Linked DNA regions of Homo sapiens. The protein of the gene in region 2 purifies or fractionates together with the protein of the main gene of each other region. This does not show direct contact. Each region holds a gene or a part of one and is shown on either strand. Other genes may lie near its edges.

The links. The genes of interacting proteins can lie anywhere in the genome.
Region 1: the proteins of RPA3 (region 2) and ZUP1 purify together in Homo sapiens (affinity purification with western blotting; 3 studies listed by BioGRID, with this or other methods). This does not show direct contact.
Region 3: the proteins of RPA3 (region 2) and TOP3A purify together in Homo sapiens (affinity purification with mass spectrometry; 3 studies listed by BioGRID and IntAct, with this or other methods). This does not show direct contact.

Annotation. Positions count from the first base shown.
Region 1 is NC_000006.12:116,658,373-116,665,766, forward strand, and holds part of ZUP1 (zinc finger-containing ubiquitin peptidase 1), read right to left. Parts: intron 2,475-7,394; coding exon 2,364-2,474; intron 1,998-2,363; exon of another isoform or gene 1,861-1,997; intron 553-1,860; coding exon 431-552; intron 1-430. UniProt on the Homo sapiens protein: Deubiquitinase with endodeubiquitinase activity that specifically interacts with and cleaves 'Lys-63'-linked long polyubiquitin chains. Shows only weak activity against 'Lys-11' and 'Lys-48'-linked chains.
Region 2 is NC_000007.14:7,638,527-7,646,520, forward strand, and holds part of RPA3 (replication protein A 14 kDa subunit), read right to left. Parts: intron 2,650-7,994; 5' UTR 1,893-2,649; coding exon 1,794-1,892; intron 619-1,793; coding exon 544-618; intron 1-543. UniProt on the Homo sapiens protein: As part of the heterotrimeric replication protein A complex (RPA/RP-A), binds and stabilizes single-stranded DNA intermediates that form during DNA replication or upon DNA stress.
Region 3 is NC_000017.11:18,311,601-18,318,856, forward strand, and holds the start of TOP3A (DNA topoisomerase 3-alpha), read right to left. Parts: upstream 3,395-7,256; 5' UTR 3,179-3,394; coding exon 2,999-3,178; intron 1-2,998. Other genes in the region: guanine nucleotide exchange protein SMCR8, read left to right, coding at 4,190-6,549. UniProt on the Homo sapiens protein: Releases the supercoiling and torsional tension of DNA introduced during the DNA replication and transcription by transiently cleaving and rejoining one strand of the DNA duplex.

The sequences.
Region 1 (7,394 bases), on a different chromosome or scaffold from region 2:
AGACATTAATTCTAAGTATAAATTTCGCTTCCAAGCATCTATACAAACACTTAAATTCTGAGTCTTGGTTTCCTAATTTGTCCCATCAACTTACACAGGTTTGAATGCAAGCTTTATCACTAATTAGCTGCCTGACACTGAGCAAATTACTTAACCATTCTCTGTCTCCATTTCTTCATCTGAAAAAAAAGGGGGCGTGGGAGGGCCTAAAGTAACTTCTTCATGAATATGTTGCAAAGATTTTGAGATATTGTATGTGAAGTGATTACCCCTGTGCCTCACTAGAATGAATATTTATAAATGGTGTCTGTTACAAACATGTATAAATTTTTTTTGAATAATAACAAGGACAAAAATAATACACTGGAAAGCATATTTGAAAAATAACTTTACCAAATCAAAATATTATAATTGTTATTAATCTTTGTACCTGCAGCTTCTGAAATTCTTCTATTTCTTGTCTTGATTCTTCAGATCTCCTCTTTCTGTCTTCTTCTTGCTGAAGCTGGTGAGCCAATTGTAGATCACCAGAACACTGGACTCTATCCATGCCTGTTAGGTATTGTTAATGTTCAGAATAAAATAACTGTTGCAATCAAAGATTATTTATTATTTAATATATGTTTTTAAAATAGAGTAAATGCTGTTATTTGCCATTTATTCATGACTGTGATGATATGGAACTGAGTACAAATTTAGCAAAACTTAGAACTGCTTTGGTAAGGAATAACCTCCATCTAAATGACAACTAACAGTCACTGTTTTTTGTTTTTTGAGACGGAGTTTCGCTCTTATTGCCCAGGCTGGAGTACAATGGTGCGATCTCAGCTCACTGCAACCTCTGCCTGCCAGGTTCAAGTGATTCTCCTGCTGCAGCCTCCTGAGTAGCTGGGATTACAGGTGCCTGCCACCATGCCCAGCTAATTTTTGTATTTTTAGTAGAGATGGAGTTTCGCCATGTTGGTCAGGCTGGTCTCAAACTCCTAACCTCAGGTGATCCACCAGCCTCGGCCTCCCAAAGTGCTGAGATTACAGGCGTGAGCTACCATGCCCAGCCTCACTAAGTGTTTAAAGCTGTGACAAGCACTTTTCATTAATTATATCATTTGATCTTTGTAACAATCTTATGAAGTAGTTATTATTATTTACTGAGGAAACCAGAATTTTAAAACGTTAAGTAACATCCTGCATTGATACTCCTTAACATAACTAAGGCAGATTGATTTTTCAAAGAAATACTAGGGGAGAAAAAAAAAAAAATAAAGAGCATAAAAATACACATTTACAAAGTGCAGGTGTTAGATAATAATTTAATTACAGTTTGGCCCCCAAAAATGGTAAAACTTTGCAACATCTCATCCTGCATCTTCTCTACTCGGTGTCCCCCAGATCCATTTGTCAGTGGCTTCTGGCCACTATCTTGTCTCCTTAACCCCATGACCTGATGGTTTAATTATATCACTGACTATTCTTCCTTTCCTTTCAAAGTTCTCAGCTGCTGCTACATCTTCCTATTTGGTCACCCTTCCATTCTTGGGGATATACAAGTCACACTCAATGTTTAGTGTCCCCTGAGGTTATCTACAGTGATTTACTTAGACCATATCTTTTTCTTATTACCCACTATAGGTTTACACTGTAATATACGTGCTCATACAAAGCCTATCATAAATAAGAGTAAGAATTAGCAGACATTCAGAAACCACCAGAGCAGGGAACTTTTCCATCTTTGCCCCAATAATCTCATATTTGGCTTAGGGTGAGTGAGCAGTAACATTGTCCATGAACACCGATACTGGTACTAGGATCATTGATACTGGACACTAAAGACCTCTGCCTTAACAGAAGCTATCTACGTACCTTAAAAAACTGAAATAGGGTAAAACACAATTGGTTTCTCTTGGGATCTACTTTTTATTTTCGTTCAGTGGGCTTCTAACATTCATATAGGATTTTTCCACTTCTAAGCCACCATAATGATTATTTAAACAATGCCACTATTAAAAAACATAGGGGAGAAAGGAAAACTTTTATAGAATCACAATAAAACCAGTAAGTCATTTAGAAGCTATTCAAGCAGCTCAAGATGCACTGAAAGATGTTTTGGTTATATAGTTCACATTCATTTGTAAAATTTTATGTGCCATATGGCAGTTTTCTAGTTCAACAATTTTCGCTGACCAAATACAATATTCAGATACTTCTAGCTGCTAAAGAAATGGCCTCAACTTGTAAATAAAACACTTTTAAAGGAAAAGATGTATTTTAAAATATTTTTTCCATATCACAAATCTAAAAATTAGATATGTGTCCTAGAAAGTAGAAATTAAATGATATTTTTATCTTCAAACATATAAACATACCTTGCTGAAAGCTGTTTTCTTCCAAATGCAAGTCAACATGTTCCTGAAGAATATGGTAATTTGTACATATGAGCCCACACATAGGACAATCATAGAGTGGTTGATCACAGTCTGTATCAGAGATATAATTAAGTTGTTTTTATTTTTTTATTTTAATTTTTTTCTTTGCTTTTTTTTTTTTTGAGACAGGGTCTCACTCTGTTGCCCAGGCTGGCGTGCAGTGGCACCATCACGGCTCACTGCAGCAATCCTCCCATCTCAGCCTCCCAAGTAGATGGGGCTAAAGGCATGCGCCACCACGCCCAGCTAATTTTTTTTTTTTTAGAGATGAGATCTCACTATGTCGTCCAGGCTGGTCTCAAACTCCTGGACTCAAGTGATCCTTCTGCCTCAGCATCCCAAAGTGCTGGGATTACAGGCATGAGCCACCATGCCCAGCCAAGTTGGTTTTATTTTTATAACTTTTAGATTTTTTCACCCCATGTCAAAGACTGTCTACCACCTATTAACCTTATATAAGTAAAAGCTCTTTGTAGTGGATTTAAAAGCTATTTTTCTACTTCTAGGGTCGAGATAGAAGGCTGAGCATAGCACAAACCTCTCATACCACTCCAAAAAAAAAGGAAATATTAATAATAAATATTCAGATCTGTAGTCAAAACAAGAGAAGCAGAAAGGAAAACCAAAGTGGTAAGTAGGGCCCAGTCTGGATATGGGTTTTTAGGACTAAATTCTCAGCACCCAACAGAGTGGTAAGGTGCTGAACTTAAACATCCAGCATAAAGCTGGGAATTGGGGTAATACTGTCTACACAGGAGCAGGAGATTAAAGAGCTGCATCCATCACATAGCACTGCAGGCAGACAGGTCTAGCTTGCCAAAAACAGAAATTGTTCCTCTATAAGACCAAGACCTAGCAGATAAGGGACATAGAAGAGGGACCCAGAATTGTGCATATACACAGAGTGAAAGCATAGAGCAATCTGTATATGTAAGGCCTGGTCTGAAAGCAGAGACTGTGAACAGCCAGTGTGAAGGAACCATGAAACTGCTTCACAGGGAAGGGATCATATAAAACTCCCATAACAGATGAACACTAAAATTTGAATTGCTAAACTCACTGGGGGCTGCAATGCCAAGAAAAACAGCTAAGAAATCTACAAACTGAAAAAGTTACCTGTGAAGAAATGGAGCTACAGTAATCCATAATAAACTGTAAAATAAGTATGTTCAAAATGCTCACTGAAATAAAGGAGGGAACTGAATCTTTGAAACCAGGACAGAAAGTTACTAAGAAAAAATAGAAAGATGAAGAAAATGAAAATATTAAGATGTAATCATTGGAATAAAAAATTCAATGGCAAAGCTCAAGAGAAAATGAAGTATTAAGTACTCAGAAAATATTTCCAAAAGCAGCAGTAAGAAATAATGGTATACAGCTTCCATAAGTAATGCTGGCGGATGTAAGAGAAGTCTTTCAGCCAGTTCTCTACCATAAAATGCCTTAGAGCCAGAGCCAATGCCAAGGAGGCCTTTGCTTATCGCTTTGATCATCACACTACTGCAAGCCAATCCCTCCACCCCTTCTAGTTTTAAGTGATAACCAACCTTCCTCAACATTAGACCACACTACACCTCATATCCCAGTATACATTTTTTACCACCAGAATCTAAACTAAGCCTCAGAGGTTAGCCATCATCATCCAATGGAGTCATCTAGGGCTGATGTAACCACCAACACTGTTGTGTCAATGAATCCAATCTAATTGTTCAGTGGCAGTGTCTTAACAATCTTTAAATACCTGAAGGACATCTGCTAATCTGACCCAAGCTATTACCCCTCCTATTCTCCCAATACCTACCACAATGCCCTCAGAAATACCATCGGTCATCAGTCAGCTTCTCTATACACAAAATCTTTCTCTGGATATTCACTTCACCTTCTTGACTTAACTAAAATCTGGTTGGTTCATGACACCCCATTTTCTCTACAGCCCCCTAACACACAGGCAACTTTTCTTTCACAATTCAGGGCCCTAGAAGTAGAAGAGGCATCCCCTTTGCTCCCTTTCACCACTGTCAAACCTGTTTTAAGCCCCATTTTTGTAATAACTCATGTCACCATAATATGGCATCATCTACCTTTCTTAGTGCCTAATATTTTCTGAAGTCTTAGACACTCCTTTCATTTACTAAAAATGTTAACACCTGGATCAAAACCTTCTTTTCCTAGCCCCTATACTATGATCATTCTTAGCAACTTCAATATCCATAGAAATAGTTCTATGCCTTCATTTCCAACAATCTTTTCCTTTACCCTAATTTACCAACCGAATGACAAAAATTATACCCTTAATTTATCACTAAGTGAATCTCTGAAATCTCAATTTCAAATATCACTCCCAAACACCTATCCTTCTACCTCACTTCTTTTAATTCTACCACTCTAAAAAGTGTTTGACCTAACTAAAACCTCCTATATAGAATATACAAACCCTATTTTTCTGTCATTCATTACCCCCCTCATGTTTTTCTTTACTTTCCAGCCCAGATTCCACATATCTTCTCTATATGATAATCATTCCCTTAAAAACACCTGCAAATCCACCTGTTCCATTTACTATAACTGAACATTGGTTAAATCTAGCTATTTACCTATTTCACTTCTGTACTTCTAATGACAACAGGTCTTTTTTAACCGCAACTAAACATTCAGACTCCTAAGACTACCAAAATTCACCAGTTTACTGGTCCTGAGAAACTTACAGGAAATGTTGTGTCAGCAAAGGATTGTCAGGCATTTTTCAATACACTTGTTTTTTTTCCTTGCAGCAGTCCATAAATTTTCATTATTAGCAGATAATAAAATGATCTACTTAGAATACTCAAGGGAATTAATGTAGAATTATTAAAATTCGTTAACAGGCCAGACGCAGTGGCTCCCACCTGCAATCCTAATGCTTTGGGAGGCTGAGGAAGGAAGACTGCTTGAGCACAGGAGTTCAAGACCAGCCTGAGTAACATAGCAGGACCTCATTTCTATTAAATATTAAAAAAAAAAAATTAGCTGGGCGTGGTGGTGCAGGCCTGTAGTCCCAGCCCCTTGGGAGGCTGAGGCAGGAGAACCACTTGAGCCCAGGAGATCAAGGCTGCAGTGAGCCATGATCATGCCACTGAACTCCAGCCTGGGTGACATAGTAAGACCTTGTCTCAAAAAATATAAAATAAAATAATATTAGTAATAGTTGAATAAGACTAGATACCTCAACTATCTATAAAAATTGATAGTGTTTCTATAAAACTGCAAAAGTTTCTTAGATGAGAGGGAAAAAAATCTAATTTACAAAAGCAACAGAAAATATAAACTATACAGAAATAAAGCTAACACAAATGTGCAATGAAAAAACAACACAAGCCTGGGCGCGGTGGCTTACGCCTGTAATCCCAGCATTTTGGGGGGCTGAGGTAGGTGGATCATCTGAGGTTAGGAGTTCCAGACCAGCCTGGCCAACATGGCGAAACCCTGTCTCTACTAAAAGTACAAAAATTAACTGGGCCTGGTGGTGGGCAGTGGTAATCCCAGCTACTTGGGAGGCTGAGACAGGAGAATTGCTTGAACCTGGGAGGCAGAGGTTGCAGTGAGCAGAGATCGTGCCATTACACTCCAGCCTGGGTGACAGGGCAAAAGTCCATCAAAAAAAAAAAAAACACACACACACAAAATTGTATTAAAGGATACAAAAGATGACCTGAATTAATGGGGAGATGTACTTTGATCTAATTTAAAACAAAATGACAACAGAGTTTTTATGAAACTTGATAATATGGCTTTAAAACTCAAAGAAAAGAAAGAATGAGAAGGTCTAAGTTGATGATGAAAATGAAGAACGAGGGAAAAACTGTCCTATCTGATGTTGATGACATTTTACAAAATAGCTATTAAAGTGGTGGTGTAATAAGGGAACAAAAGTCACATAGATAAATACAGCAGAAGTAAGAGACCAGAAACTGGCCCACACAGATATGAAAATGTAATAAAAAACAGAAACCATATTATAAATCAGAGATATATCTGGTTTCTGTACAGGGAAAAACTAAAAATTAGATCCCAAGTTCACAAAATATACACATGTACACAAGTACAGACACACACACACACACACACACACACAATCCAGAAAAAATTTTAAAAAGTGAAAATATAAAACATTAAAGTTTTTAGAATATATGAGAATAGCTTTTTGAATTCAGAGTAAAGAATACTTTTTTAGACAATACATAGAAAACAAAAATAAAATTCAAATACTGCACAAAATTCAAGGATAAGCAACATCTTATGGAATACAGCTGAAGGATTAGTATTGAAAATATATTTTAAAAGCAACTGAAAAAAACTCAAAAAATATTTGACAATATACAGTTGAAAAATGCATGTAACTCAAGTGTACAAAAAATGTAATATGCAGTTCATAATAGAGGAAATTAAAATAACTATACAAAAAAAGATTGATTTCATAATCAGAGAAATGCATTAAAAAAGAATGTAGACACTGACTTCATACCTTTTACATAGAGTAATTCAAATGTATCACAGATCTAAATGTAAAATACAAAACTATCAAACTTCTAGAAGTTGGCAAAGAGTTTTTAGACACACCAAAAGCATGATCCATGAAAGAAGAAATTGTCAAGTTGCACTTCATTAAAATTAAAAACTTCTACTTCATGAAAGACACTGTTAAAAGAATAAAAAGACAAGCCACAGACTAAGAGAAAATATCTGCAAAATACACATCCAAAAAAGAACTTGTATCCAAAATACAGAAAAATTTTTCTTTTTTTTTTTTTTTTTTTTGGAGACAGGGTCTTATTCAGTCACCCAGAGTGGAGTGCGGAGTGCAGTAGTGTGATCATGGCTCACTGCAGCGTCCACTTCCCAGGCTCAGGTGATCCTCCTATTTCAGCCTCCCAAATAGCTGGGGCTACAGACGCAAGCCACTAGGCCTGGCTAGTTTTTTGGTTTTTTTTTTTT
Region 2 (7,994 bases):
ATGCCATCTTTACAAAAAACAAAACAAAACAAAACAAAACAAAACAAAACAAAAATTAGCCAGGCATGGTTAAGCATGCCTGTAGTCCCAGCTACTGGGGAGGCTGACATGGGAGCAACTTGATCTTGGGAGGCTAAGGCTGCAGTGCGCCATGATGGTGCCACTGCATTCCACCCGGGGTAACAGAGTGAGACCCTGTCTCAAAACAAAAAAACAAAAACGAAACAAAAAACCTCTTGAGGAAGAAAAAAGCAACGTAAATTTTTCTTATGTGATTTTATGGTCTTTCATAAGGAATGAGAATTGTTATCCAACATTTATGGGATATGTTCAAAAATCATGACGCCCAAAAAATCATTGGTTAAAAATGTAAAAGGAAATATAATGAGAGAATAGTACAAGAATTAAATTTTACAGCCAGGGACGTTTTACCAGCTCATCCTTTTTAAATCCATTGCAAAAATTAGAAACATCGGCAACAAACCAAATCAAGATGAAGAATTAACTATAATATATAAGAGACTTATTAACACTTAAACATACGGGTTCCATCAACTCGATGGTTCCATTTTTTCCTTCTCCATCTGAAAGAATAAACATTTTTCCGGTGGGATGAATCTAAAAACGAAACATATAATTAAAATCTCACTAAAACAACAACAAAGTTTGACTAAAGATGAGTACATTGATCCTTAGTTGAGCACAAATCAACTGTTTCTTGAACAGTTTATTCATTCAGTTTATTCAACTTATTGGATCAAATTATAATCTTATGTTATCAAATCTGTTCATGGAACACACAGTTAATTTCTGAATTTCAGATAAACAAGGATTTTTTTTGTAGTGTTAAGTAGGTTCTGTATTTGCTAAATATGGCAACCCTATTCTGATAACAAATTAAAGGATGCCCACCCTAAAAGTGAAATCTGCTGGCACTCATGATTTAGACAGTACATATCCCACGGAGGGTATGTTTTAAAAAACAGGCATGATGAAGTAAAAGGAGAACTGGTTGCTAGAATATCTGGGTCCTACTCCTGGGAAGCAGCTGTAAAGAGCGCTGTCAGATTGCGTTTGAATGCCAGCTTTGCCATTTGCCGAGTTTCTGAGCATTTTAGTCAACCACCTACCACTCCTACTCAGTTTCCCTACTTGGGAAGTCAGAGCAACACTCATTTAAGGAAGAGGATGTGTGGATGAAATGAGCTACTAAATAAGTCTTTATATAATAGTTTTCTTTTCCTCAGCTTTTCAGGTCACTGATTCCAAGACTTTGGGCCTGTTTCTCGCCTGTAGAATGAGGGAACTTCACTTTAATACTGGGGTTAAATAACTCGTTACTACGGGACCCAAAGCGGACAACCAAGGCATGTTTTACAGAGAAGCGATCACAACGAGGAAACGAGGTTTGCAAAAATAAGTAATTTCAGAAGAGAAGGAAACCAGCAGATTAGTTTTGTCTGCGTCCGTCACGTCTGAGTAAACTAAGAAATCTGAAGGTAGATGTGGGAGTGGTGTTTATAATTTCCCTTACGTAAGCACGGCTAGAACGGAGGCGACGGGCACTGGAATTTAGAACTCAGCATTTGAAAACACTTTGTTTCCGTGCCATAAAAGAGCGCCAAAATGGGGCTACAACGGCTAAAGAATTTCCAAAAAGTTCCTTGTGCAAAATAAAGGAGTCGGGGGCGCAGTGATCGGAGGCTTTCCGTCCTTTTTCATCCCCCGTTATCCAGGCGGGGTCCCTCCCTCCAGCTACGGACTTGGGAGCCCATGATTGCGAACCCGCACACCTTTTCCAGCCTCCCTACGAAGCAGACAGGCTTGTCGATGAATTGAGCTAGCATGCCGGCGTTGATGCGCGACCTGGGCAAGTCCATCATGTCCACCATGATTATGGTCCAAGACTGCGGCTGGCGGGAAACCCACGGACGACTGAAACTGTGCGCCCCGCGGGTGTCTATGGGGCAGATTTCTCGGCACCAATCAGCGAAGACTAGCGCTCCAGCTTCGCCAATTAAATGCGCGGAAACCTAAATCGCAATCGCGCTGTCTCTGAAAGGGGTGGAGAAGGGGCTGGATGAGTCCGGAAGTGGAGATTGGCTGCTTAGTGACGCGCGGCGTCCCGGAAGTTGACAGATACAGGGCGAGAGGCAGTGGAGGCGGGACTTGGATAGGGGCGGAACCTGAGACTACCTTTCTGCGATCACAGGATTCCCGGCGGTGACTTGACCCCGGAAGTGGGGTGTGAAGCTCCGGTGCTGGTGCGGCGGGGGACTGCGGGGCCAGCCTCAGGTACCTCGTCTCGCGGGAGGCGCCGCAACCTTACTGTTTCCCCATTCTTCCCGCGAACAGAGTCAAAAGAGCTAGGCGGGAGTCGGCACTAGCTGCTGCCGCGGTGCTGTGGGTGCTGCGTACCAGCTGTTCACTGCTGTCTCGCCTTCCCTCTTGCCAGTTCTGCGTGGGAGGCGCGGGAGTTTTGCGGAATGATACGTGGTGTGGCGTCGGGGTTGTGATACCCGCCCCCTTGGAGATGGGCAGCGGGGTCATCAGTGATCTTGATCACTTTCTTCAGGCTTTTGCCACTTGTTGGCTGAGGGTCGATTTACTCCCTTAGCTGCGTCACTCTACTTTCTCCACTTTCTCCACCTGTAAGAAGAGAGATTGATCCGATTACTTCTAAGACGTTTTTTAGCCCAACCTGGCCACACTGCGGAGGCGCCGGTTCTTTCACCCCGCTAACCCCTCCGTGTTGGCAGCCAATAGAAGCACTTAAGGATGGGTAACGGGGAAGAACCACTGGCCAGTACTAGGGGAGACAAGCTTAAATCGTTGTTAGACCCCGAGCTAGGGTTCCCCGAGCTAGGGTTCTCCCTTCTGAGGCGTGTTTTCCCCATCTGCAAAACGAAGGGTTAGGCGGAATGATTTGCAAGGTCCCAGTTGACTCTGACTTTTGGCCATATGTTTGACTCAACAGTTTAAACCCCCTCAGCAGTCTTTCTGTCGTTGCCCTCCACACTGCGAGACTCTGGAGGGCGATCTGGAGGTCTGGAAGATAACCGATTCCTGGGAGATTTGGGGGTAGTCTCCAATCTGTCCCTGGCTCATCTTGTGACCCGAAGCCGGCGGCCTTGCCAGGAGTATTCTAGAATGAGTGCACATAAAAATACCTTCAAACGGTACGGTGGAAATTGGACAGAAGTTTTAATTGGGTATTATAACGTTGTGGAAACTGAGTCTGTGAATTGGCCCAAAGCTACAGAATTGTCATCGTTCAAATTCCCTTAAGCAAAAAAGATCCGATTTGAGACTTCACGTGGCAATTTAAGATTGGAATCTCATGTACGATAATTAAATGATAGTCTCCCTTAGTGTTTCCTTAGCACTTAATAGGTTTGTCTTAGTTTTACTCACTAACGGTACTTTAAAGGATTTCATTAAACAGATGTAGAATGTGTGTCAGTGGTGTATAAAAAAGTTGTGGTTGTATTGGTGCAAGTCAGTAAAGTCTATTTTATATTACAGCTTTAAGTCTTTTGTACTTTAGCATTGTTTTGCAAAGCAAGTTGATGTGCATTATATAGGGGAGAGTACACACATCAATGTCTTTAATAGCATTTTTTTTTGAGGCAAGATCTCTCTCTGTCACCCAGACTGGAGTGCAGTAGCATGCACATAGCTCACTGCAGCCTTTAACTCGTAGGCTTAAGCGATCCTCTCACCTCAGCCTGCCAAGTAGCTGGGACTATAAGCACATACCACCACACCCAGCTAATAAAGATTTTTTTTTTGTTGTTTGTTTTTTTTTGTTCAGATGGGGCCTCGCCATGTTGACCAGGCTTATCTCAAACTCCTGGGCTCAGGCGATCCCTCCCTCCCCCGTCTCCCTCCCAAAGTACTGGAATTACAGGTGTGAGCCTTGGTGCGTACCCTGTAATAGTGATTTTTTTTTTTTTTAAAGAGCACTCCTGTGAGTACCAGATGTTAATGTCGTTGTTTACCTGCAGTTAGAAAGACCACTTTTAAGCAAAGGCTTTCTTTTAAAACAGGGAGATGAGCAGGAAGATAATTTAAAACAGCTTTTTCGTGTATTTTTGAGTCACTTAAAATATTATAAAATACATGATGTACAGAAAAAAGTATAGCTAGCCGATTTGCATAGTTTTGAGAGAAATGAAATGAATCCATGGGGCCTGTCATTCAGCTGAAGAAATGGAACTTTACCAGTTACCAGTAAATTTTACCAGTTTGCACTTCCCCAATGAAGCCCTCCTTGCTACAGCCATAAGTAAACACTATCTTGAAATTTGTGTTAAGCTTCCTAAGCTTTTCTAGGTGGTTTTATCACACATGCAGGCGTTGCTAAATGGTATGTTGTTTAATATTGCCAGTCTTTGACCTTTATATAAACAGAAACGTATGTATCTTCTGACTTCTTTTGTTTGTTTTTGAGATTCATCTATGTTGACGAATGTACGTAGATCATATTTTTTTTTCTGTTACAGGTAGGCATGAGTGGGACAGTAGTGGGCTCTCCCCCAACCCACTAGAAATGTTGGGGGATGGTTTGGCAATTACCGAATTTGCTTCTCTAAAAATGATAATTCTGCAGCGCCAGGGAGAGGCCATTTCCTGATGGTCCACACCTGTTATCAAAATGTTAATTGAATGTAGACCCGAGGGAGAAACAGCTTCCTGGGCATGCATATTAAGAGACAAAAATGGTAAAGTATGATCTTCCAGGTACACTCCACCGGAAAAAGGAAGGAAGCCTCAGATGGGCGTGCATGTAACTCCCTAAAAACACTTCCCAAGGCTAAGGAGGGCTCTGTGCCTGCCGGCAGCCTATCCTAAGGAAAGAATCATGGGAAATAGACAAGCTTGTAAAAGTCCTAGGATCAGGGCCGGGCGCGGTGGCTCACGCCTGTAATCCCAGCACTTTGGGAGGCTGAAGCGGGTGGATCACCTCAGATCAGAAGTTCAAGACCACCCTGGTCAACATGGTGAAACCCTGTCTCTACTAAATATACAAAAAAGTATCCAGGCGCGATGGCGGGGGCCTGTAGTCCCAGCTACTCGGGAGGCTGAGGCAGGAGAATGGCGTGAACCCGAGAGGCGGAGCTTGCAGTGAGCCGAGATCGCGCCACTTCACTCCAACCTGGGCCACAGAGCGAGACTCCCTCTCAAAAAAAAAAAAAACAAACAAACGAAAAAAAAAGGATCAACGGTTAAATCGGACACTTGACCTACTCTCTTTAACCTTCACATTCCCGCTTGGGTCTCTAACAAGCACACCTTCCTTTCTTCCTGTTTTAAGGCCTTTTAAAGTAAACTTCCATTCCTGCTCTGGAACTTGCCTGGGTCTCTGTTTCTGCTTTATGCCCCTCAGTCAAATTTTTTCGTCTGAGGAGGCAAGGACTGAAGTTGCTACTGACCCGTGAGGATAGGCCACCGGTAACTTGGGGTAACTTGGATCTCTGCCACTAGTAAAAAAATGATTTCCCCAAATGGTGGTACCAGTTTACTCTCTTACCTGGAGTATAAGACAGTTTACAGTTATTGTATATTCTTGGCAACTCTTGGAGTTTTTTCCCCCAATTTGATGGATATGAAGTGTTTTTTTGTCGTGACCCTAATTTGCACTCCCTGATTACTGAAAAGTTTGAACATTTTTTCAGATTTTTATTGGTTATTTATGTTTATCTTTTTTTCCTTGATTTTTCTTTTTCTTACTGACTTTTAAGAGCTTTTTATTAGTGAGATATTGTAATGGTACAAGTGTTGTCTGTTTTTGGCCTATCTTTCCGTTTCCTTCCTTCATTCCATCCTTTTTTTTTTTTTATTAGGAAGACCTCTTTTAATATAGTTAAACATTTTCCCCCTTAAGTTTAATGTAGGAGAAAAGTCCATTAAAATCTCATTTATGAATTCTTTGATACATCGTACTCTTAAAGGTATTCTATTTTTCCTAAAATGTTTAGAGTTTTGCCTTTCATATTTAATAGTCCGTCATCTAGAATTCACTCTTCATGTATGTTGTCAGATAAGTCTCCAATCTCTGTTTTGTTTTAATTTCAGTTGTCCTAATGTGATTTGACTGTATCACCTTTTTGCCACCTTCACTTGTCACCTTAAGTTTACAGATATGTGTGGAGTCAATTCTATTCTATGGATCTATTTTTCTATCCCTGAACCACTACCTATTTTCTTTAATAGTGTAGCTTATCATAACTTTTGATGTCTGGGGCTGTGTTCTCGGGAATGTCTTGGTTATTTTTGTCTCTTTGCTCTTCTGTATAGAATGTAGCTTATGAATTTCCAGGAAAAACTGTGTTGGAATTTTGATCAAAATTGCACTGTATCCTTGGATGTATTTCAGGAAAAGTAACACCTGAATGTCAACTCTTACTATCCTTGAGCCATTTTGGTCCTCTTAAAATCTTTCCAAAAGGTCTCATACTTTTCTACATAAAAGTTTTGACTTTTAGCTTAGATTTATTCCTAGATACCTTGTTTTTGTTGCTATTATGAATGGTATCATTTTTTAAATTAAAGATTTTAACTGATTGTTTTGGTATATAGAAATGCCATTTTAAGAATTTTCTATCAGTTTTTTTTGGAATTTTCTATTCATATTTGAATAATTATAGTTTTGTTTCTTAAGAATTCTTACATATTTTATTTATCTTTCTTACCTTTTGCCTAGGATAGAGCCTTCAGTACCATTTTGAATAGAAATAGTGTTTAAGTCAAGATGGGGTTTAGCTGCATAAACAAAAGTATCTTTAATGCACAAACGCTTATTCTCACATGTGAAAGAAGTCCACAGCTGTGCAACTTAGTACTTATGTGGTAGTGCACTAAGACTCAGGGCCCCAGGTTCTTTCTGTCTTTCTGTAGTTCTACATTCAATATCTAGTTCCATATTTATGGTTATCTCATAGGCCAGGTAAGTGATGGAGCTTCAGCTATCAAGTAAATCCACGTTCTATGTGGCAGAGAAGTGGACCCGCATTCAGCTTCCTTTAAGGAGTATTCCCCGAAGTCCTTCCCAACTTGAATTTCTGTTTATTAGATTAAGGAATTTTCCTTCTATTCCTAGTTTGATAAGCATTTTAATTGAATTGTTACGGAATTTGATCAAATGCATTTTTTGCCTTAATTGAGATGATTGAAATGAGTATGTATTTTTCAGTGTTTGAACCAAGCTCACATTCTTGGAAGCTTGGTTATGATATATTGTCTTTTATATATATTCCTGGATTTGATTTGCTGTTGTTTTTGTTTAGGATTTTTTTTTTTTTAATCTATGTTCATGAGTGAGATTGGTCTGTAATTTTCCTTTTTTGTATAGTCCTTGTCAAAATTTGGCATTATGGTTATAAGACAGGAGAATTCCCTGGACCCCTTTGTGGGACTTGGAACCAGGGTGTGGCTCGTTTGCTCGGCTGCCGTGTACTCAAACCCCTTACGGGAGAGGGAGCATGCAGGTGAGCAGGTGCAGGAGTTGGGGTGAGTGATTTGGGCCTCCAGCCCCATGGCAGTGTCTAGGGGCGTTACAGTGCTCTTTTAGCCCTGCCGTCTGGGAATGGCTTAAGTGTTAAATAGCTCAGTAGAGTCAGTGTGACAGCCTTTTTGGGTTCCCACACCCAGTGCATCCTGAATTCTTGTCTAGCATCGAGGAGGAATCAGGTTACATGGGCTTGAAAGATGGTGAATGTGGGCATTTTATTGAGTGATGGAGGTGGCTCTCAGTGGGATGGTGATACGGTTTGGCTGTGCCCCACTCAAATCTCATCTTGAATTGTAGCTCCCATAATTCCCATGTGTTGTGGGAGGGACCCGATGAGAGATAACTGAATCATGGGGACAGTTTCCCCCATACTGTTCTCGTGGTAGTGAATAAGTCTCACGAGATCTGATGGCTTTATAAGGGGAAACCCCTTTCGCTGGATTTTTTTTTTTTTTTTTTTTTTTTTAATTCTCTCGTCTGA
Region 3 (7,256 bases), on a different chromosome or scaffold from region 2:
TAATATTTATTGAAAGTTTCCTGCATTCCAGACACCATATTAGGCGTTAGGACATAGCAATTAACAAAATATAATCACTGTCCTTTGGAGTTTAGAGTCCAAGGAGAGGCAGTGACAAAAATCAAATAAATGATCGCACATCCCATTATTTAACTGTAACTAGTAGATGCCTTTCAAGTAGAATAGAGTGCTATGACAGCATGTCAGTAAGGGTCTCTGACCTAGTGTGGGGGAACAGGTGGTGAGGGAAGGATTCCTTGAAGATGAGACATTTCAGCAGCCTCTCTCCTCTAGCCGCCCCAGATGCCAAAAGGAAAGATGGCCAAGGGGAAGAAGTGGCCCTGGCCCCTGTTGTCATGGAGCAGCAGTAGGCCAAAAAGGTGGTAAATCCCATTTGAGAAAAGCCCTAATAATTTTGGCATTGGATATCTAGCCTAAGGGCCTCACCCACTTTGTCAAATAGTCCCGCTATAAATGGCTGCTGCGGCAGAGCCGCTGTACTCTATAAGTGGCTGATGTGCCACCTGGGATTGACCAGTTCACCCAGGCCTCAGACTACCAAACTTAAGCTACTCAATTGCTTAAGCTGGCCCACAGTACAGACAAGAGACAGAGCAAGGGATGAGATCGAAACCGTTGGCCCAGGCTGAGAAGAAAGCTTCCAGCAAAGGGGATGTCGCTACTAAGAGACCACCTACACTTCGAGCAGGGGTTGACACCGTCACCAACTTGGTAGAGAGCATGAAGGGTCAGCTGGTGGTGGATCCCATTGAGCTGGTTGTCTTCCTGCCTGTGCTGTGTCCTAAGATGGGGATTCTCTACTGCACCGTCAAGACTGTGGTGTCAAATTCCACAGGAAGACCTGCACCACTGTCACCTTCACAAAGGTTAACTTTCTGGTAGACAAAGGAGCTCTGGCTAAGCTGGTGGGACAAATTACAACGACATATGAGATCTGCTGTCACTGGGGAGGCAATGCCCTGGGTCCAAAATCTGTAGCTTGCATTACCAACCTAGAAAAGGCAAAGGCTAAAGAATTTGCCACTAAACTGGGTTAAGTACACACTGTTGTGTTTTCTGTACATAAAAATAAAAATTCTCTTTCCAAGAAAAGTCTTTCCTTTTGGCTGGAACTGCCATCTTGGAGTAATTTGCCAAAATGACGAACACAAAGGAAAAGAGGACGAGGCATCTGATGTATGTTCTCCTGGCCTTATAGAAAACATGGAGTTCGAGCTGGGCACGGTGGCTCACGCCTGTAACCCTAACACTTTGGGAGGCTAAGGCGGGTGGCTCACCTGAAGTCAGGAGTTCAAGACCATCCTGGCCAACACAGTGAAACTACTAAAAATACAAAAAATTAGCTGGGCATGGTGACAGGCACCTGTAATCCCAGCTACTAGGGAGGCTGAGGCAGGAGAATCGCTTGAACCCGGGAGGCGGAGGTTGCAGTGAGCTGAGATCACACCATTGCACTCCAGGCTGGGCAACAAGAGCAAAGCTCCATCTCAAAACAAACAAACAAAACAAAACAAAAATATGGAGTTTCTCTGGCCACAGACACCAGAATCTACAATGAAGGTGATATTGAGGACTTCGTGAGAATGCATACTGTTCAAAAGGGAATGACCCACAAATGTTACATGGCAGAACTGGAAAAGTCTATGTTACCCAGCATGCTGTTGGCACTGCTGCGAACAAGGGCTAGATTCTTGCCCAAAGAATTAATGTTTCTATTGAGCATATTAAGCACTCTAAGAACCAAGATCTTTCCTGAAATGTGTGAAGGAAAATGATCAAAAAAGAAGCAAGTCAAAGAGAAAGGGTTCACCTGAAGTGCCAGCCTGTTCCATTGAGGGAAGTACACTTTGTGAGAACCAATGGAAAAGAGCCTGAGCCGCTGGAACCTATTCCCTATGGATTCATGGTATGATAGGGTAAAAATAGATAAATACAAGACCTCTGGATTGCTTAAAAAAAAAAAAAAAAAAGGGAGAGAGAGAGAATGAATTCAGCAGAGCCTTGAAGGATAAGAAGTTAGGCGTAGGAGAACCATTTTTCAATGTCTACTTCATTGTCTAGAAGTAGACAAACCTTGGGGCTGGTCACCAGGACTTCTAGCACTGGAAACAGGTAAAGCTGTCAGCCAGCATTCACACAACCCTGGCTCCACTCCCACTATCCTTGATCTGGAAACAGGTCTTAGGACCCTGGGAACTAAAGAAAAATGAGCAGGGAACTTCCACCCATGCTCTTAGAAAAGTTCTCCAGAAAACCATTTCAGGATCTACTTTTGTTATCTGAGATATTTTCCTGGACAGCTCTTTATGTCTCCCGTGGCACCTCCTTTATGAAACTTTTTCTTATCCTCCCTTGCGTTTGTGCCTCCCGTGTGTGTAGAACACATTCTTACCACTTACCTCTCTCAGAATCAGTTCATTCGGGTAGGAACAGGGCTGACTTCAAATCTAATCCCCAAACCTTACCGTGTTGCTGTAAGTGTGCACTGTGAGGCTGGAAAGTCACAAGGGCTGTAGAATGCAGTGGCTGTGGCACAGGATGGGGAGGGCTAGGTTGGCTGGGGAACGATCGGGCAGGGCTTGAATGCCAAGTTAAGGGAATCTGGTCAGTAGTTCCCAAATGAATTTCTGAATCTCTAGGGAAAAACAGTAAAATACACACTTCCCCAGCCTCACACAAGACCCGAAGGGCAGCCAGCGCCCGAGGCGATTCCGAGAATCAGACAAGTTTGGGAACCTGCTAAGCGCAAGCAAAACAAAAGGTTTCCACGCAAATGAGTGAGATGTATCAACTACGTTTTAAAATGCACTCCAGTCCGAGAGCAGACAGGAGGCCACTGCAATAATCCAGACGAGGGGCAGTGAGGCCTGAGAAATGGGAGATAATCGCCTTCATCTCGATTCTTGGCGCCCACCACGCTGTCCCGCTCGGTGGGCCTCCCTTAAGGCACGCAGCTGATCGGAACGCGCTTTCTTACCCGCCTCATGCGACCGTTTGACAGCAGGTCGGCGATCCCCTTGGCCGCGTCGTTTTTTTCGGCCACACAGAGGACTTTCCGCACGCCTCGGAGGGCCATCTCCATGGCGGCGCGGGAAAAGGCACGGTCTTCGGGCCGTCGCAGCCACCGGAGCGCGTAGCGGGCGACAGGAAAGATCATCCTCAGACCTCGCGCCCGGAGCCGCTCCCCGGCTGCCGGCGCATCCTGGGGAAGCCAGAGATGAGGCTCAAATGGCGCCCACCGAAAGGGAACCAGAGCCTCGCTTCGGTCACGTCCCCACCAGCCTGCTGGCCTTTGGAGCTTCAGTCACTGAGCCTTTCCCGTGCCGCAGCCGCCGCCTCAGCACCGAATCCAGTATCTTGGCGTGGAACTTCCGCCCGCCTTCTCCAGCTACTTCCGCCAGGCGCGCGCCCCACAGCGACCTGGAACTACAACTCCCAGACTGTCCCGCGCCCCTCGTCCAAGCACGTTCCCCTCTGCCACCTTCCCGCCGCCCCCGTCTCACTCCGCCCCTCTTTCCCCTCCTTCCCGGCAGTGGTTGGTTAATCGGACTCCTTCTTGCGGGGAGCCGCCAGACACTCCCATCCAAGGCCTCTTTCTCATGACTTTTTAATCTCCTGCTCGGAAGTCTACGAGGACGCTTCCGGGTCACGCGGCGCGGACACCAGGAGTCATGTGATGTCAAGATGGCGGCGCCGCGGTAGCAGGATCCGGGTTGTGGCGTCCTAGGAGCCGCGACGGTTTCTGCCCTCGGGCAGTGAGGGGCAGCAGCGCTTGGCTGACCCCTGCGGCGTCCCGTAGCCTCGCGTTAAGCCTTGTTCAGAGCGGGGGCTTTTGCTGTCGCAGTGGGTTCCGGAGAGTGCAGGTGATTTCGCAGCAGGTTTCTTGTGCTGGCCGCGCTCGCCGGACGAAGAAGAGAAGGGCAGTTGGGCCTGCGGCCTTGGCGTTCATGAGGCCTCAGAGAGCTCCGGAGGAGCTACAACTGTGAGGGGGCTGCTAGAGTTCTTCTCCTCGGGTGTGTGAGAAGCAGCCTAGGACCCCGGGTTCGGGGAGTCGCAAAGAAGGCCGTAAGGGCTTCACTTCCTTCTCCGGAGGCCTGCCTTCTGCGCGTCGATTAACACCGCATTCTTTCCCACTTCCTCTCAATGTTTTCTTCATATATCTGGAAATATGATCAGCGCCCCTGACGTAGTGGCCTTCACCAAAGAGGAAGAGTATGAAGAAGAGCCTTACAATGAGCCGGCCCTGCCTGAGGAGTACTCGGTGCCGCTCTTCCCCTTCGCCAGTCAGGGTGCTAACCCCTGGTCAAAACTGTCCGGGGCCAAGTTTTCGAGGGACTTCATTCTTATTTCCGAGTTCTCTGAGCAGGTGGGACCCCAACCCTTACTGACCATCCCCAATGACACCAAAGTTTTTGGCACTTTTGATCTCAATTACTTCTCCCTGCGTATCATGTCTGTGGATTACCAGGCTTCCTTCGTGGGCCATCCTCCTGGATCTGCCTACCCCAAGCTGAACTTCGTGGAGGACTCCAAGGTGGTGCTGGGAGATTCTAAGGAGGGCGCCTTTGCATACGTGCACCACCTTACCCTATACGACCTGGAGGCCCGTGGCTTCGTGAGGCCGTTTTGCATGGCTTATATCTCTGCAGACCAGCATAAAATCATGCAGCAGTTCCAGGAGCTTTCAGCCGAATTTTCCAGAGCTTCTGAGTGCTTGAAGACTGGCAACAGGAAGGCATTTGCTGGGGAACTTGAAAAAAAGCTGAAAGACTTGGATTACACCAGGACAGTGCTACACACAGAAACGGAGATCCAGAAGAAAGCCAACGACAAAGGCTTTTACTCATCTCAGGCAATTGAGAAAGCCAATGAACTGGCCAGTGTGGAGAAGTCCATCATTGAACATCAAGACCTGCTGAAGCAGATCCGCTCATACCCTCATCGGAAGTTGAAGGGGCATGATTTGTGTCCTGGTGAGATGGAGCACATCCAGGATCAGGCCAGCCAGGCATCCACTACCTCTAACCCTGATGAGTCTGCCGACACAGACCTTTACACCTGCAGACCAGCCTACACCCCAAAACTTATCAAAGCAAAGTCCACCAAGTGTTTTGACAAGAAGTTGAAGACCTTGGAGGAGCTCTGTGACACTGAATATTTCACCCAGACCCTGGCTCAGCTCAGCCACATTGAACACATGTTCAGAGGAGACCTGTGTTACCTCCTGACCAGTCAGATTGATAGAGCACTTCTAAAACAACAGCATATAACAAACTTTCTCTTTGAAGACTTTGTGGAGGTCGATGACAGGATGGTGGAGAAACAAGAAAGCATACCCTCTAAGCCCAGTCAAGACAGGCCGCCTTCCAGTTCTCTAGAAGAATGCCCAATTCCTAAAGTGTTAATTAGTGTTGGTTCTTACAAGTCCAGTGTGGAGTCTGTGTTGATCAAGATGGAGCAGGAACTGGGAGATGAGGAGTACAAGGAAGTGGAAGTGACTGAGTTGAGCAGTTTCGACCCCCAGGAAAACTTGGACTACCTGGATATGGATATGAAAGGGAGTATCAGCAGTGGTGAAAGTATTGAAGTTTTGGGCACGGAGAAATCCACCTCCGTGCTTTCTAAATCTGACAGCCAGGCAAGCCTCACAGTACCATTGAGCCCCCAGGTGGTCCGGAGCAAAGCAGTCAGCCACAGGACCATCAGCGAGGACAGTATTGAAGTCCTCAGTACCTGCCCCTCTGAGGCCCTCATCCCTGATGACTTTAAGGCCAGCTACCCAAGTGCCATTAATGAAGAAGAATCATATCCAGATGGCAATGAAGGAGCCATCCGCTTCCAGGCAAGCATCAGTCCTCCAGAACTGGGTGAGACAGAGGAAGGCAGCATAGAAAACACCCCATCACAAATAGACTCCTCCTGCTGTATTGGGAAGGAGAGCGATGGTCAGTTGGTGCTGCCCTCCACTCCAGCCCACACACACTCTGACGAGGATGGGGTGGTGAGCAGCCCCCCACAGCGCCACAGGCAGAAGGACCAGGGGTTCCGTGTAGACTTTTCAGTGGAAAATGCCAACCCTTCTTCCCGAGACAACAGTTGTGAAGGGTTTCCCGCTTATGAGCTGGACCCGAGCCACCTGCTGGCTAGCCGGGACATCAGTAAGACCAGCCTGGACAACTACTCAGACACCACCAGCTACGTGAGCAGTGTAGCGTCCACCAGCTCAGACAGGATCCCCTCTGCTTATCCTGCTGGCCTGTCTTCCGATAGGCATAAAAAGAGGGCTGGCCAGAACGCCTTAAAATTCATCCGCCAGTACCCCTTTGCCCACCCAGCCATCTACTCCCTGCTCAGTGGGAGGACACTTGTGGTCCTGGGGGAAGATGAGGCCATAGTCAGGAAACTCGTGACTGCACTGGCTATCTTTGTCCCCAGCTATGGCTGCTACGCTAAGCCCGTGAAACATTGGGCCTCCTCCCCTTTGCACATTATGGATTTTCAGAAGTGGAAGCTTATTGGCTTGCAGAGGTAACTGGTTCCAGGTGGTGGGGAAGGGCCTTGGCCAGATAGGGATGAGGTATATTGGTGTGGTGGAGCCAGAATCAGGAAGCCTGGCTTCTAGACAGGGCCCAGTTCCTACCACTGTGTTACTTTTGGCAAGTCATCCCCCTCTCTGGTTTCTATTTCCTTGTCTGTCATGTGAGGGGGTTGCAGTTCCTAGGTGGTTGCCAATCCCCATCTGTCCCCGAGCTGTGTCAGCATTATTAGGGAAAGTTTTTATTTTTATTTTTATTTTTTTGCAACGAAGTCTCGCTCTTGTACCCCAGGCTGGAGTGCAATGGCGCGATCTTGGCTCACTGCAATCTCCGCCTCCCGGGTTCAAGCAATTCTCTTGCCTCACTGTCCTGAGTAGCTGGGATTACAGGCGCCTGCCACCACACCCGGCTAACTTTTCTATTTTTAGTAGAGACAGGGTTTCACCATGTTGGCCAGGCTGGTCTGGAACTCCTGACCTTAGGTGGTCTGCCCACCTCAGCCTCCCAAAGTGCTGGGATTACAGGTGTGAGCCACCGTGCCTGGCCGGAAAGTTTTTAAAATCATGGATTCCTGAGTCACAAGCCCTCGAGGTTCTGATTCGGTTGGTGTGAGGTAAGACATGGAATTTATCTGTCGCCATTGCCAGCCCGACTGCAGGGAGCATCTCTCTATAAAAGCAAAAGGCCCATCAGAAGGGA